Regions from separate parts of the Homo sapiens genome. Here region 1 is reported to be linked to region 2. The links are microRNA targets in miRTarBase. Many come from high-throughput screens and were not tested one by one. Region 2 holds a microRNA gene; the other region holds the end of a gene's coding sequence.
Evidence for each region. The annotated mature microRNA hsa-miR-7110-3p reads UCUCUCUCCCACUUCCCUGCAG and lies in region 2 at 1,764-1,785, opposite strand. An mRNA with a match to its seed (bases 2 to 7 or 8) in the 3' UTR can be bound and repressed. Matches are read on the target gene's strand: a 7mer-m8 pairs with bases 2 to 8, a 7mer-A1 pairs with bases 2 to 7 and ends in A, and an 8mer does both.

Region 1: the mRNA of RHOH is a reported target of hsa-miR-7110-3p. Seed matches in the 3' UTR shown: 7mer-A1 at 2,744-2,750.

What each region holds. Positions count from the first base shown.
Region 1 is chr4:40,243,530-40,246,643 of GRCh38, forward strand. RHOH (ras homolog family member H) reads left to right here. Exons shown (of 3, transcript NM_004310.5): 3 at 1-3,114. The coding sequence ends at 433. Among named protein-coding and RNA genes, the nearest start is that of RHOH, 48 kb to the left of the region's middle.
Region 2 is chr3:123,160,529-123,163,642 of GRCh38, reverse strand. It overlaps MIR7110 (microRNA 7110), which reads right to left and starts at 1,849; the gene lies at 1,764-1,849. It overlaps PDIA5 (protein disulfide isomerase family A member 5), which reads right to left. Exons shown (of 17, transcript NM_006810.4): 16 at 2,188-2,322; 17 at 1,539-1,763. The coding sequence ends at 1,683.

The DNA.
Region 1 (3,114 bases), not on the chromosome of region 2:
TGGCATCCAGATCAGCCTGGGCCTCTGGGACACAGCCGGCAATGACGCCTTCAGAAGCATCCGGCCCCTGTCCTACCAGCAGGCAGACGTGGTGCTGATGTGCTACTCTGTGGCCAACCATAACTCATTCCTGAACTTGAAGAACAAGTGGATTGGTGAAATTAGGAGCAACTTGCCCTGTACCCCTGTGCTGGTGGTGGCCACCCAGACTGACCAGCGGGAGATGGGGCCCCACAGGGCCTCCTGCGTCAATGCCATGGAAGGGAAGAAACTGGCCCAGGATGTCAGAGCCAAGGGCTACCTGGAGTGCTCAGCCCTTAGCAATCGGGGAGTACAGCAGGTGTTTGAGTGCGCCGTCCGAACTGCCGTCAACCAGGCCAGGAGACGAAACAGAAGGAGGCTCTTCTCCATCAATGAGTGCAAGATCTTCTAAACCCCAAGAGACTTCACACAACACTTATGTATGCACCCCAAAGACTAATGGGGAGAGGGAGGGCCGGGAAGCCAGGAAAGCTTGGTGTTTTCTCTGGGTACACCCCAAGCAGCGTCTCCTTTTGGATACAGTTATTGATGAGGCTTGGCCACTGGATGTTTTCACTAACTACACTCTACAAGTGAACTCCTTGCCCAGGCCAGTTAGAAAATCCCTTGGGGAACTGTGATGAATATTCCATCTTTGATTAAAAAAGTGAAATAGTCTCCATAATTTTGGACGATGAAGTGAGTTTTTCAAAGAATTCCATATTTAAAGACACATTTTATTTAACTAATAACAAAATGTATTGCTTTTGTATATATTTAGTTTTCACACTTGGAAAATCTTTTCCTACATCCTCGAAAACATAAACTCCTCTGTGAGTGAAATGCTTGTACGAAGCTCTGCCATATGTTTGTAGTGTTATTATTTTCACCTCAAGTAGAAAGTCTGTTGAAACCACTTGGCTGCTGGATTTAAATGGGTAATCAAATTTAAAAATGACCATAAATGAATCTTTGCAATTTGTTTTCTACTTACCTGTTATTCACAGTTGGATATAAAATACAGTTCCATAAGATATCCTAATACTGCCTAATGATTTTAAAGTTATCACTATATTTTTCTGAAATGATAAAACATCATTCATTTATTTACTATATTGTCTTTCACTCAACTCCAGTTATGCACTAAATATTCTCCTCTCATTCACCAAGATTGATTGAAACACCATCTTTCAGGTAGAGAATCAGACTGCTCCAAGCAATGGCAACAGAACTTGGAACAGAAGCAAGAGAGTGTCACTTTCACTTCTGGTAGGGTGGTTCCCAGGCGACTGCAGGTCCTGTGAAAGACAGGGGTCTCAAAGTTCTGTTAATTTCACAAATTTGTTATAAATTTGTCTAAACTGAGCTGTTGTGGCAACATAATTTATGAATCGTAAGGTCTAGTTAGGCTTATTGGGGGGATATCTACATATATATGTGTATGTAAGGGAAAAAAGGTAGAATTTACAGCCTTCAAAAAAGAAAAATCAAATTCCAAGCACAGGAATAAGAAAGCTATATAGCAACTGCTCAGAGAACAGAAAGTTATCAGGGGAAATACTGAATAAATAGACACACACATACTCGCACACAACCTGCTCTCACACACACAACTCAAACCTCATTCTATCGAATAGTTTAAAAGCAATGGTGTTGCTCATCTGTTAAAGTGGAGAACAGAGGACTACATAACTTAAGGTAGAAATTGCAAAGGCTGGGTTGGGCAGGGCGTGGTGGCTCACTTTGGGAGGCTGAGACGGGTGGATCACGAGGCCAGGAGTTCAAGACCAGCCTGGCCAACATGGTGAAACCCCGTCTCTTCTAAATATTAGCTAAAAATTAGCTGGGTGTGGTGGCACATGCCTGTAGTTCTAGCTACTCAAGAGGCTGAGGCAAAAGAATTGCTCGAACCTGGGAGGCGGAGGTTGCAGTAAGCCAAGATCGCGCCACTGCACTCCAGCCTGGGCAACAGAGGGAGACTCCATCTCAAAAAAAAAAAAAAGAAAAGAAAAAAAAGAAAGAAATTGCAAAGGCTGGCACCTAGATAGATCAATCAATTACTGCCCTAATCAAAACTTAGAAACACTCTGAACCACCTTTATGAAGGTACATCATTGTTATGGGGTAACGTGACTATTACACACAAAAGGTAAGGTGGCTGGCATAAATGACTTTGATTAGAATTATGTTGACATAGCCAAACCAGTTTCTCTGTTCCCTTGTGTGGTCAATTCCTTACAGCTATAATCAGTATCAAAAACCAAATGTGTGCTCATTCACACATTGCTTTCTCCTTCTCTCTCTCCTCCTATCCACAGCCAGTAAAAGGCCTGGGACCGGGGTCTTGATCTCTGGTGGGAGGATTGCCTCGGTTCCCTGGGGCTGACACAGCTGCCTTCACTCAGACTTCTCTGCTCTCCAGGCGGTGGCTTGTACTCACCTCTAAGTCACCCGCCTCCCTTGATTGGAGAGCCCGTGTCTCTAGTTCTCAGCTCAGGGTTGGGGGGCTTGAAAGATGACCGGGCAGGGGAGGGGAAGGGATCTCATATCCTCTGATATCCCTGGGATTCTCTTCTTCTCCCTCAACCCACAGAGTCTTAAATCACGGATGCGGGTGTTCAGGGCCAGCCTTTGCCATGAGAGGTATTTAACATGTCAGTGGGAAGGAATTTCTATTCACTGCAGTGGGCTGTCCCCCAGGCTTTTCTTTCTCTCTTGTTGAAGAGAGATGGGGGTGGGTATCTGAAAGTGGGAAGGGCCACCATACATGATCCTAAGTGAAGGAAGAGGAGGTGGTTCCACGGTGGCAGCAGAGCAGGAAGGGAAGGCCAGAGAGGGCACACTCAAATGGCTTTGCTGTCACCTGGGCAAAGACACACAGGTGAGACCTCCACCTGTTGGCGGGAGCCAAGCTTAACAGCTCCGTCTGGGAACTCTCATACCTGAGACCAGGAATCTATGTGTAAACCCTTTCCAGTGGCAGAATCTGGCAGAAATGGAGCCGATAAGTGTCTGTCTTCCTGCTAGACTGCTGTTCTTGAAGGTAGCACTGCCTCCTGGTCTCCTCAGTGTCCCCAGGGCTCAGCACAGGGA
Region 2 (3,114 bases):
ATGATGTCTAAATGTATGCTTCTGTCTTTCATATCCAATCCTTGGGTGAAGTCCAGGGGCCACTGCCAAGGAAGTGGGTGCTTAGGGGAAAAGAGAAGAGCTGAACTGGCAGGAGGGTCAATTGGAAAGTTGGAGAACTGCACAGAACAAGGGCTCTCAAAACCTTGATTTCCCTTAATGAAACCACCCACAGTGGCACCATCGTCAAAACAGCTGTGAAGAACTTGGAGGCTCTGTCCTCCTCTCAGCAGATTCATCAGCAGGAAGGACTTAGGCCAGGAGGAAGGGAGCTGGGTCCAGGAAAGGAGGGCTGTTCCTGCAGGCCAAGTCCCCATCAAGGCCACCAGAGCGTGCTTCCAAGTACTGCAGCTTAAGCAACGCCCCCCTGAACTACTGGAGGAATCCAACTCTAGGACCGCTACTTATAACTAAAGACAAGATACTAGCACAAGGCCACTCTGCTGTCCATGGAGAAATACCACCAAGCAGACAAAACATGTTACTGCTGTGCTCAGGCTCTGCCTGCACCGCTGGGCACAGGGCTGGGGTGTCAGTCACGCAGGAATGCAGAAAGCAGGAGGACTCACCAGAAAGGTGGGTCAAAAAGGAGATGTACACAGGCAGGAGGCCGAGCAAGGCACCCATCCATGGAAAACGTGGCGTAAAGATTTGGGGTTATTATGGTTGGTGGTGGGGGCTGGTGAGCAGATCTAATATCTGCACCTCGAGAACACACCATCCCTTCCAGCCAGGGTGCACAGCAAGCAGCTGGCACAGAGCCCCCCTTCCCCCACTCCATTCATGCCCCTGAAGCGGCAACTTAATTTTCTTTAAAGGGAGATTGGGGAGGGAATGGAGAGACGAAGAGAAGACAAATAGCTGGAGAAAGATAAATACCTAAGTAAGTTCCAGGAAAACACACACAGAGGAAACACACCAATGCTGAAACCGCAATGATCCAGAAGAAGCTAGTGTTTGGTTACCATTTGCTTCAGCATCCCAATTTCCCTGATCATCTTTTGTTTTTTTCTTTCTTTTTCTTTTTCTATTTTTGAGACAGGTCTTGCTTTCTAGCTAGGCTGGAGTAGTCATGCGATCATAGATCATTGCAGCCTTGAACTCCTGGGCTCAAGAAATCTTCCCTTCCCAGCCTTACAAGTAGCTGGGACTATAGGCATGTACCCCTATGCCCAGCAACTTTATTTTCTGTAGACATGAGGTCTCATAATGTTTCCCAGGCTGGTCTTGAACACCTGGCTTCAAGTGATCCTCCCACCTCAGCCTCCCAAAGTCATTGATCATCTTGACGTATTTCCTCTCATTAGCTTGTCATTTTCCAGCAGGATATTCTGCGGTCCAGTTTCCCTGTTCTGCTCTCAAATGACTGACAGGGGGCCGACACCCTCAGGAGTCACCTCCATGCAGATGGGGCACTGGAGCACTGCTCTGTACCTCCCAGCAGAGGTGGTGGAATGAGGAGGATGTGAGTATCCACCTTTTTTAGTACAGGCTCCACGAAAATAAACCATACCACCAAATAAATGGTTTAATTTTATTTCAAAATTGTACAAAATGGCCATAAGCGGCTATAAAAAATTTGTCTTCAGAACATGTGGAAATTCAGAAACAACAAAACAGGTATCATTCACAGTGTAATGGAAAAGCTTTTTCTGAGGCAGGAATTATAACTCTTCCTTCTTTTTCCCTAGTCTTTCATGGTCTCCCTCCCGGAGGGCTCGAATATAATTGGTAAATCCCAATTCCTGCAGGGAAGTGGGAGAGAGAGAGAGAGAAAGAGCTTTAATCCCTGAGCTGGCTGTGCACTCTCTCTCCCCACACCCCCAGCCCCTCCAGGGGGTCACTCCTATGACAGGGAGAGGTGGGCAGACTTCTGCAAGGTGGAGAGGGTCTGCGTGGCTTGCACCAGCCCCGACCAGCAAGTGAGAAAACCCTCGGCATCTGGAGTCCAGCCTGCCTCTGGGGACAGGACATCTGTGGCAACCCCTTGGGACTCTCCTCCAACAATGTCAAGCCTCAGCCAGGCCCAGGGCCTGGGCCTCTCGGTGCAGTGTTCCAGCTGACTTCTGCAGTTTCTGGGATGCTGCCCAGTGCTGCCCCTCCTCAGTGGAAGTTTCCCTGCCCATCAGCAGAGAGAGAGCTCTGGGCAGACGCCTCTCCCCCACTTACTGTGCGGTCGCTGTCATACTTTTCTGCGAACTTCCCATAGTGGTAGTAGTGGAAAGTGGGGTAGCCCTTGACCGCCTCCTGCTGGCACAGGTCTTGGTTCTTGTCTTTGACACAGTCAACAGCGGCACAGGCAATCTAGGAGCCAAGGTAAAGAGAGTTGGCACAGGGTGTCCCCAGGCTGAGGCCTGGACCCCACAACACAGATTGCACATCTAGTCCACGTCACAGGCCCACTCTGATTTTTCTCCTCAGTGGCAGGTAGGAACTGAACCAAAGCACCCCCAGCTCAGGACTCCTTGGAGACTGATGGTGCTTGTTTTCAATTTCCAGATGGGTAAGGTTAGGGGACTCGGCCTGGAGTGCCTTTAGACTGTCCTTTAAAATCAAGAGTATGATGATCGTAAAGGAAATGATGACTTGAAAGCATTTGTAAACACCACAGGTTCTGTGGTGCTATCTGTAAGGGACTGTAGGATTTAATCATTTCTCCACTAATATTTCCGGAACATTAGCTTGGGGGGACAGTATAGTGCCAAGGTTAAGGGCAAGAGCTTTCAAGTCAAGTTCCCCAAGTGCACTCTTGGTTTGCCTGGACAGTAAGACTTAAGGAAAATAACTCAGCCTCTTGGTGCCTCATTTTTTTCAGCTGTAAAATGGGGATAATAATAGTATCTAGGCTATCAGGATATTGTGAAGACTGAATAAGAGAATTCCAGTGAGGCCAGTGAGCACAGAACCTGGCACCAGATTCATGGTCAGGAAATGTCAGCTGCTATTACAGTCACTTCTTCCAACCCCATATACAAGCTCTGTCCCCACTTAGGGGCTCAGTGTCTGGGCAGGGGTTGGATAAAGGGACAATTCCAACATGATGTGATGTGAGGGATGAGGGAGGTGGTCCAGGTGCCAGGTGAGTGGGGCAAAGGC